Linked DNA regions of Homo sapiens: region 1 is linked to region 2. The links come from fine-mapping of genetic effects on gene expression. A gene starts in region 2. The other region holds a variant in brackets. All regions are shown on one strand. Distances are from middle to middle. Region 1 has its middle 17 kb from the start of ACSM2B. Region 2 holds the start of ACSM5 (acyl-CoA synthetase medium chain family member 5).

Region 1 (5,377 bases), 180 kb before region 2:
AGGGGATCCTCCAAAGTTGAACATGCCAGGAAGTAGGGGTCACTGGACACCATGTTGGCTGCTGGATTCCACACATAGTTTTCAGCTTCTCTGCTTTGGTACTGAGACTATAAAGATGCATTTGGCTCCATCTTCATGGCCCCACCCCAGTGATTCTAAGGACATCTTTCACCCTTTGTTTTTGTTTAGACTCTCTCCACATTCCCAATAACCACCCTCTGCTGTGTTCCAACCATCTTTCGGCTGCTTGTGCAGGAGGATCTGACCAGGTACAGCCCATCTATTTCGTGCTTTGAGGGCCTAAGTATGTGAATATATAGCATGGGTATCCACACACACAACTACCCTCTCATTCCAACTCTCTTTCTTTCTCTGTCTCCCCCTCTATATATTTTTCTGCCTCTCTCTTTGTCTCTCTCTCCCACACACATTTATACACATACACATTGACAAGTCAACATACCTGTAAATCTCACAGATGCCCCTCAAGAACAAGCTTCTGGCCCCCCAAAATTTGCATCCAGATGGAACTAAATAGATTTAAGGCAGACTGAAATTTTAGCACCTGAGATAGGCTTCTCCTCACACCATACACCCATGGGCTATTCTGTCAGCAGTGTGTCTGCTACTTCTGTGAGGGAAGAGAAATGATTGGACAATTGTTAGCCACCTATGGAGTGCGGTTTGTGGCCAGGGCCCTCAGGTGTGGTGAAACTAACAAGCCCGCACCACAGTAGATGCCCCAACTCTCAGCCTCAGAGTAACCCCAGCCAACTGTTCTCTGAGCACATGTCATTGGACACCCAAGAGAAAGGGACAAGGCACTGATGATGGCTCCATCCTGGGTGAAGCCAAAGCAACATCTTCTAGCAGAACAGGGCTAGTTGCTGGGGTATATGGAGAGAGGCCCACCATCCTTCAGTATCCACCAACCCTGATCTGTTCTCCCTCTTTTGTCCTCCCCCAAGTCATGAGGAGTCGTCCTTTCTTCTTTCCTAATCACATGAATCTACCCACCAAGTGTCCAAAAGAGGGAGTTCTTACATGTTTCTAAAAGTGAATTCTTCTCCAATGTAAGAAAATCATCCCATTCATTGATCTGATGTGTGCATCTCCACATGATGATTTTGGCTGAAAGCAAGCTCCAAGTACCTCGTTAAGAACAATGTCGTTGAATGCTCTTTGGTAATAATAAGTAACTTAATCAAGCCAATTTGATCTCCCCTCTCCTCCAAGATTAAAAATGTACTTACAATCACTGATTTTTTTTTAATAGTTTGGATGATTTGTTGAACAGAGAGGGCATTTTGCAACATAATTAATATCTGTAGGAATTTTTGGGATTCTTAGGGGTCTAATTTTTATCTTTTCAATTTTCTTTTCTTTCCTTTCTTTTCCTTTTTCTTTTATTTTTATTTATTTATTTATTTTAGAGACAGAGTCTTGCTCTGTTGCCCAGGCTGGAGTGCAGTGGCATGATCTCGGCTTACTGCAACATCCGCCTCCCAGGTTCCAGCTTTCCTCCCACCTCAACCTTCCAAGTAGCTGGGACTACAGGCATGTGCCACCATACCTGGCTAAGTTTTAGTACTTTTTGGTAGAGACGGGGTTTTACCACGTTGACCAGGCTGGTCTTCAACTCCTGAGATCATGCAATCTGCCCACCTAGGCCTCCCAAAGTGCTGGGACTACAGGTGTGAGCCATGGTGCCTGGCCTATCTTTTCAATTTCTAATTGATCTATCCTTTTCAATCAGATTACTGTCCTAACCAATTTATTATCAGTTTTTTTCCAACTAAATTATTTTGGCCAAGTTACCTGGAACTCACCATATTATGCCAAAACCTATTATATGAGCTTCTGATTTTATCTCAAACTCAGATGGGATGGATCTTTTAAAAATTATCTGTCCATGAGGAGCATGGTTGCAAAGCCAGTGGGTGGACTCACTTAGAGAAGATTAAAAAGCAGGGGCATCTACCTCTAGTGCCTGTGGTGTTTGCATCTGGGCAGTGGCACCAGAGGGCGGGGTGGTATGAAGATCCTGACATAGGTGGCCTTGTTTTCCTGCCTGAGGAAGGTACCAGTTTCAGAGCCTGAGGCACTGTCTGACCGGAGGAGAGGCCCTCAACCCTGACGTGAGGGAGAAGTGGAAACGCCAGACCGGTGTGGAGCTGTACGAAGGCTATGGCCAGTCTGAAACGGTGAGTGCTGGAGGGGCCAGGTCCCTACCCCCCA[G/C]GTCCCCACCCCCCAGGTCCGCTTGAGAGCTTCCTGCCTCTCCAGCTGTCACCTCTCTGAAGCTTCTCAGGGACCACCCTTCCCCCAGGGGAGAAGCCGATAACAAAATTCCATCAGCTTTCCTTCCCTTTTGATTTCCATATGTTCTCACTTATAAGTGGGAGCTAAGCTATGAGGATGCAAAGACATACAGAGTGGTATAAAAGACTTTGGAGACTCAGAAGGAGGAAGGTGGGAGGAGGGGCGTGAGGGTAAAAAAACTACATATTGGGTATAATGTACACTACTCAGGTGACAGATGCACTAATATCTCAGGATTCACCAGTATAGAATTCATCCATGTTACATAAAACGCTCGTACCCAAAAAGCTATTGAAATACACACACACACACACACACACACACACACACACACTACTTATAAATTAAAAAAAGGTAATTTAAAGTACTTTTACAATTATACCATGACCAGCAAACCAGCCCTCACTGCTGAAGGCATTGTTTGTCTCCACCAAGACAGTCTACATCTGCCACTGTTCAGAGTCCAAGATTCTAAGCAGCGTCCTCTATAGTCATCTAGGAAGAGATCTGGGGATCAACTGAGTCTTTTGGCTTAGAGATGGGTTAAGTTCTTTATGTTTGAGTGCCCACTGGAGTGCCCCATAGTTGTTTGCTAACTATGGAAAGAAAAGAAGAAAGACAGGCAAGAAAGAGGGAAGAAAATGAAGAAGGAAGGGAAAGAGGAAATAAAGGAAAGAGAAAGGAAAAGAAGGAAGGAAGAGGAAAAAGATGAAAGGAAGGAAGGAAATAGGGAACAAAGAAGAAGGGAGGAGAGAGGAAAATGGAGAATGAAATAACGGGTTAAGGAATGAAAAAAGAAGGAGGAAAGAAAATGAAGGAGGGAAGGAAGAAAACAGGAAAGGGGAAAGAAAGGAAAGAAAGAGGAAAGGAAGGAGTGAGCAAGGAAGAAAAAAGAAAAGAAAGAAGGGAGGAAGAATGGAGAGAAATGGAGAGAGGAGAAGGGAAAGAAAGAAGAAAGTGAGGGAGGAGAAAAAAGAGGATGAGAGAAAGAGTTATCAGGCAGGGTGAGAGAAAGGCATGGCCCAGGAAAGAAGCTAAGTGGAAAGGCTCTTCTTTATCTGTACTGAGTTCTCCCCAGGTTGTCATCTGTGCCAATCCAAAAGGCATGAAAATCAAGTCTGGATCCATGGGGAAGGTGTCCCCACCCTACAATGTGCAGGTAGCAGACTCCCCCAACTTCTGGCAAGGCCTGGCGTGGAGAGGAGAAAGACACACAGGCCTGGCTGGCACGGGCTGCTGGGCTGCTGGGCTGCTGGAGGGGCCCAGGGTGTAGACACTCATGTATGCACCTCTGTGATGATCTCCTTACCAGATTGTGGATGATGAGGGCAATGTCCTGCCTCCTGGAGAAGAGGGGAATGTTGCCGTCGTATCAGAACCACCCGGCCCTTCTGTTTCTTCAATTGCTATTTGGTAAGAGACGGGGAACAGCTGTTCTCATGACGGTGACTGTGTGCTAAGCATTGTGCACCACACTTTGTAAGTATCTATTTGTTTAATCCTTACAATGACTGCATGAGGTAGGTTGCTACTATTATTAATAAAGTTCTGTTATTGATAAGGAAGACTATTATTAATAAGGAAGCTACTACAAAGGGGAAGTGACTTATCCAGCATCATGCAACTAGTACAGGCAGGACATGGGATTTAAACGTGGGTGTGTCTGAAAGCGTAAACATATGACATGAGGGCAGCACCGTTGTTTTAATGAGGAGAAAATCGAGGCGCAGTAAAGGAAAGGAGCTTCTGAAGGTCAAACTGCAGCCGGTTGCGGTGGCTCACACCTGTAATCCCAGCACTTTGGGAGGCCGAGGAAGGTGGATCACCTGAGGTCAGGAGTTCAACACCAGCCTGGTCAGCATAGTGAAACCCCGTTTCTACCAAAAATACAAAAATCAGCCAGGCATGGTGGCACACGCCTCTATTCCCAGCTACTTGGGAAGCTGAGGCAGGAGAATCGCTTGAACCGGGGAGGAGGAGGTTGCAGTGAGCCAAGATCATGCCACCGCACTCCAGCCTGGGCAAGAGAAGGAGACTCTGTCTCAAATAATAATAATAATAATAATAATAATAATAATAATAATAATAATAATAAAATAAATAAATACATAAAAGTCAAACTGCACTATTGTGTCAGAGCTGTCTTCAGGATTCTTTTTGTGGTTTGCTAGCAGGGCACAAACCTGGGATTTCAGTCCAAGTTTCTGGGATAATTCAGTAACTGCTTCCTTTTGTATTCATCTTGGCTGGTGTTTATGTCGGGCTTTCTTTTCTTCACAGCTTTCTCTCAGGTTTAAGCAATTCTCTTGCCTCAGCCTCCCAAGTAGCTGGGATTACAGGCATGCACCACCACACCCAGCTAATTTGTTTATCTTTAATAGAGACAGGGTTTCACTATATTGGCCAGCTGGTCTCAAATTCCAAACCTCAAGTGATCCACCCACCTCAGCCTCCCACAGTGCTGGGATTACAGGCATGAGCCACCACACCCGGCCTAGCCCTTCACTTTCTACCCTCAGTGATTCCTGAGCACAAAGAGTATTCATGTGTTCTCTTGTCCTAAAAACCACAGCCAGTGGCCCTGTGCCCACCCTCCTGCTTTCAACTATGCTTTCTAGACCCCCTTCTAAGGATGGTGGTGGGTGGCTGCCCTTAACCATTGGCTGGCAGCTTGATTCCAATCAAAAGAGGGAAATCCCACAACTAAACAGGGCCATAGCTCCCTGTCCATTGGGGAACTCTGGGCAGCTGGGACTTTAGGAACTGCTGAACTTTCTGTTGAGTGGTCTCCAGCTTCCTACAGGGGGCTACTGGGGCAGTAACTGGCCTTAGCGGTTGTTCCCAGAGGGTCCTTCACGGGTTGTCTTTGTCTTTCAGGACAATCCTGAGAAGACAGCTGCATCAGAACAAGGGGGCTTTTATATCACAGGGGAGCGAGCTCGCATGGACAAGGAAGGCTACTTTTGGTTCATGGGAAGAAACGACGATGTGATCAATTCTTCAAGGTCAAGCTGTCTGCACTTTCCTCCTCCCTTTGAAGTTTCATGGGGGTTGACGG
Region 2 (5,377 bases):
CCCGGCCTTCTTTCCTTATTTAGAAGAGAAGGGCGTGACAGTGAGAGAAAAACATCAAAGACAGAGTAGCAGCAAAACAAAACTTCCTCCTTCAGTTGATGAACAACTGGAAGGGAATCGGAAGGGACATAACTGTCTCACTGTGTGATTTGGGCTCAAGAATGCAGGACACTTCAGAGAAGGAACAAGCATGTCTAAGGCTCACAACACTGACTCAGAATTTTTTCCTAAGTCTCAAATGCCAACAGTTTACATTTTAGAACTAGCAAAATTCCCAGGTCCAAATTTCCTCATCAACATGCTTGGAGCCTTGAGTCTCATTGTGGTACATGAGGGCAGCCTCAGATGCCCCAGATGGACTCTAGGACAGAACAGGCTTCACCTCTTCCAGCCGACTCCACACATCCAGCACATCATGGGCGAAGTTGAAGTACTCAGGCACCAGCTGCCTTCCCAGGCTGATGGCTTCCCAGGTGGCCACGATCTTCTGAGGAACAGGTAGAGGTGCTGGCTTCCCATGAGACCCACAGAATGCCCTGGAGTTCCTCAGTGCCTGGAGGACTAGGTGTCTCAGCCATGGTCTCATGCAGTCGCCTCCTGTCTGTCACCAAAGAGAGGAAAGAGGGCATTGTCATAAATTCTGGGCTTTGGGGACAACACATAGGTTAGGAGAAACCTGTGGTTAGTGCTGATGGTGACTGTGATCCTTACTGACTTGTAGAATAAACTCTCCACCTTCAGTCTCAGTTCTGCTGTGTGATGGTCATTTCTCTCCTCTGACCCCGAGGTCTGTCCTTTTGACCTCTCACTGACTTGTGGGTATCTGGGTCTGAGGTCAGAACTCAGATCCCACTTCTCAAACCTCAATACTTCAAAAGGAATCCCTCAAAAAGGCTTTGGCCAATCCTGAACTGACCTTGCAAAGCTGAAGACAGCTCTAGGGCAGCACTGTCCAACAGAAATAGAACGTGAGCCACCTGTGCAATTTACAATGTTCTAGTACTTCCATTAAGAAAAGTAGAAGCAGGTGAGATTTATTATAATAAAACATTTTATTTAACCAGATAGAGCCAAAGTATGACCATTTCAATTCCTAGTCAATAGAAGAATAAATTGTTAAAGAGATATTTTACATACTTTTATTTATTTTTTGTTTTTTTTGGTACTAAGTCCTCACAATCTGAAATAGACTTTACCCTTACAAACACATGTCAATTTGGACTAGCCACACTTCAAGTGCTCAAAAGCCACAAGTGGCTGCTGTATGGCATGATGGGCTTTTAGTGTCTTTTTAATTTTTTTATTTAATTTTATTATTTTTAAAATTTTTATTATTGTTGTTTTTGAGACAGAGTCTCACTCTGCTGCCCAGGCTAGAGTACGGTGGTGCCATCATAGCTCACTGCAGCCTCAAACTCAAGCAGTCCTTCCACCCCAGGCTTCCTAGTAGCTGGGACTACAGGCACTAGCCACCATGTGTGGCTAACTTTTAAAAAGTTTTTTTGTAGAAACAGGATCTCACTATGTTGCCCAGGCAGGGCTTGAACCCCTGGCCTCAAGTGATCCTCCCAACTCGGCCTCCCAAGTGCTGGGATTACAGATGTGAGCCACTGTGCCCAGCCCAGTTTTAGTGTCTTGCTACTCAAAGTGTGATCTTGGGACCAGCAGATGGGACCCCACCCTACATATGTAGAATTAGAATCTGCAAGTTAACGGGATCTTCAGATGAGTCATATGCATGTTAAAGTTTGAGAGGCACTGGCCCGGGAGCTGCGTGTGACCTCAGTTTCAGTTTCCTTGCATTAAATTCCTCTTAGTAATAATAATAACAAAATATGGTAATAACAACCAACAATAATAACGTGGCACAACAAGAAAAACCATAACAGCTTCAGTCTATTGAAGGCCTACTGTGTACCAAGCATTTTAAGAGTGCTTAGAGGCATTATTTCATGAAATCTTTATAACAACTCTATGCTGTAAATGTTATTTTCTCCATTTAAAGATAAAGAAAATGAGGCTTAAAGGGGAAAAGTGACTTTCAGGTTTCACTTCCTGGAAAAACATAGGCCCCAGCCTCTGCAGTGGCCACCAGGCCTAGGCCTGCAGCCTCAGAGACTTCCTTTCTCTGACCCACCTCTCCCGCCCCTCACCTCTCCCGCCCCTCACCTCTCCCGCCCCTCACCTCTCCCGCCCCTCACCTCTCCTGAACTGAGCTCTGCCCCAGTCCTTTTCCTCAGTCTCCCACCCCTGGATTCCTCAGCCACCTAAACAGCTGATAATTTAGAATCCCCAGGCCTCCTTCCCATTCCCCGACACCATTTCAGATGTCACTTCTTGATTTAATCAGCAAAGGCCTCAGAGGCAGCTGATACCTTCGTCTGAAAAATTTCTTTCCAAATTACCTTGCTCTTGAACCAAAGTAATGCAAAAGGTCTCTGTTTTCTGCTTCAGCTGAGCAGAGCAGGGCTGAGTGGCTGTAAACACTCAGCTCCCTCAGAAAACAGCCTCCCACAGGGAACTTCAGCCCCAAATGCAGCCAAGAGTGGGCAGAGCCAGAACCCAGCAGCTGACACAGTGGCTTCCAGTGGTCAGGGTGCATTGAGCCAGTGAGAGTGGCCCCCTGCCAAGTTTTCTCAGTACTCACAGTGGCTGGAAGATCAGACCTCAACTGTCGTGCCTGGTGGGTGTGCCCAAACTGGTGGATGTATTCCCTAAAAATTCAAGTCGCCATCTAATCGGAAAAAGCAACAGGAAGATTATGACGGGTTTTTTTTTTTGTTTGTTTGTTTGTTTTGAGACGGAGTCTCCCTCTGTGGCCCAGGCTGGAGTGCAGTGGCGCGATCTTGGCTCACCCCAAGCTCTACCTCCCGGGTTTGCGCCATTCTCCTGCCTCAGGCTCCCGAGTAGCTGGGACTACAGGCGCCCACCACCATGCCCGGCTAATTTTTTGTATTTTTTAGTAGAGACGGGGTTTCACCGTGTTAGCCAGGACGGTCTCGATCTCCTGACCTCGTGATCCGCCCGCCTCGGCCTCCCAAAGTGCTGGGATTATGATGTTTTAACAGAAAAGGTGCAATAGTGATAATAATATAAGTCAGACTTTGTTTCTTTTCTGCTTAGAACCCTCCAGTAGATACAGAGAGAACAGAGGAGTGGTTCCAGGGAACGGCTCTAAGGCATCCCTTTGAAGTCATAGAATTGTTCTAAATTTGGATTGTGGTCATGACTGCAGATCTCTGTAAATTTACTACAAAAAATAGTAATAATAATTGTACACTGCCAAAAGAAGTTTTTTGGGTTTTTTTGTTTGTTTTTGGAGACAGGCTCTTGCTCTGTCGCCCAGGCTGGAGTGCAGTGGCGCAATCTTGGCTCACTGCAACCTCCACCTCCCGGGTTCAAGCGATCCTCCCACCTCAACCTCCCGAGTAGCGGGGAATATAGGCATGCACCACCATGCCTGGCTAATTTTTGTATTTTTTTGGTAGAGATGGGGTTTCAACATGTTGGCCAGGTTGGTCTCAAATTCCTGACCTTAAGTGATCTGCCTGCTTTGGCCTCCCAAAGTGCTGGGATTATAGGTGGGAGCCACTGCACCTGGCCCAAAGGTGGTTTTTCGAAAAAGCTTCCTGCAACTCCCTATCTCACTCACAGTCCAAGCCAAAGTCCTGACGATTGCCGGGTGGGATGGCTCACGCCTGTAATCCCAACACTTTGGGAGGCCAAGGCGGGCGGATCACGAGGTCTGAAGATTGAGACCATCCTGACTAACACGGCGAAACCCTGTCTCTACTAAAAATACAAAAATTAGTCAGGCGTGGTGGCGCCTGTAGTCCCAGCTACTCTGGTGGGCGCCTGTAGTCCCAGCTACTCTGGAGGCTGAGGCAGGAGAATGGCATGAACCTGGGAGGCACAGGTTGCAGTGAGCCGAGATCGTGCCACTGCACTCCAGCCTGGGAGACAGAGTGAGACTCCGTCTCAAAAAAAAAAAAAAAGTCCTGGCAATTGCCTACAGGGCCCCACAGGAATTCCTGTGAGCCTTTCGCCTCAAACCTCCTGTCTCAGTCTGCTCCAGCCATACCGGTCTTTTTGTTGTTTGTTCTCTGAAGTTCTTTTTAAATTATTTTTAATTTTTGTGGGTACATAGTAGGTATATACATTTATGGGTTACATGAGATATTTTGATACAGGCATGCAATGCGTTAGAATCACATCAGGGTAAATGGGGTGTCCATCACCTCAAACATTTATCCTTTGTGTTACAAACAATCCATTTATACTATTGTAGTTATTTTAGGTGTATGGTTACATTATTTTTGAAGATAGTCATCCTATTGTGCTAGGAAATACTAGGCCTTATTCATTCACTCTTACTACTTTTTTGTACCCATTAACCATCCCCACTTCTCCTCCAACTCCCTGCAACACTTTCCAGCCTCTGGTAACCGTCCTTCTACTGTCTCCATGAGTTCATTTGTTTTCCTGTTTAGCTCCCACAGGTAAGCGAGAATGTGCAATGTTTGCTTTCTATGCCTGGCTTACTTCCCTTAATGTAATGACTTCCAGTTCCATCCATGTTGTTGCAAATGACAGGGTTATGGGTGTCCTATAGAGAGGATGCTGAGCCATTAACTGCCTATCTTTGCAGTGATTCAAACTTCACCCTGGATTTTTATCCATCACTGTATGTTGTTCCCCTGTGACTCTGTCTCATTTCCTGGCCTGGCCAGTTTGGCCCATTTCCACGCAGGCAGCTCCTCTCCCTTGCCGCCAAGCTTGGCCACAGGGAACCATCTTATGAGCCCTCAATGTCCATTTGCTCAGCATTCAGTCCTCTACTGCGACCCAGGATACAACCTCATCTCTGAATCTGCAGCCAGATGTAAAGATACAATCTCTACCCTCAGAGGGGTGGACGGACTGTTGAACATTATTTCTCCAGCAGTCTAATCTCAATATCGTTACTCTCAATCAGTACTTTTTAGAAGAATATATAATCATAAGTCATGACAAATGTTTCATAAATGTTCAATGAAAGAACTGGATACACTTTATAGACAATATAATCACAATTTTATTTTTAAAAAGTATATATTAATCCCATACGTAACAAAATATGAATGTTTCTCTAAGTAAGATGATGTATGATTTCAATTAACTCATTTTTTCTGTATGTTCTATGTTTTAGAAATTAAATCCTGTTCTTTTCTAATCAGAAAGAAATTAATGTTATTTTATAAAAAGAAGCTTTAAGCCGGGCACAGTGGCTCACGCCTGTAATCCCAGCACTTTGGGAGGCCGAGGTAGGTGGATCACCTGAGGTCAGGCGTTTGAGACCAGTTTGGCCAAAATGGTGAAACCTCGTCTCTACTAAAAA

What was found. PIP is the estimated chance that this variant, and not a neighbour inherited with it, causes the effect. A credible set is the group of variants that fine-mapping cannot tell apart.
Region 1: its variant is the best candidate, but not a certain one, in a credible set for the expression of ACSM5 in subcutaneous fat (TwinsUK, PIP 0.51).

What each region holds. Positions count from the first base shown.
Region 1 is chr16:20,590,657-20,596,033 of GRCh38, reverse strand. It overlaps the pseudogene LOC112267906. Among named protein-coding and RNA genes, the nearest start is that of ACSM2B, 17 kb to the right of the region's middle. The variant G/C (reference allele first, on the strand shown) is at 2,239.
Region 2 is chr16:20,406,694-20,412,070 of GRCh38, reverse strand. ACSM5 (acyl-CoA synthetase medium chain family member 5) reads right to left here and starts at 2,537. Exons shown (of 14, transcript NM_017888.3): 1 at 2,406-2,537; 2 at 383-601. The coding sequence starts at 586.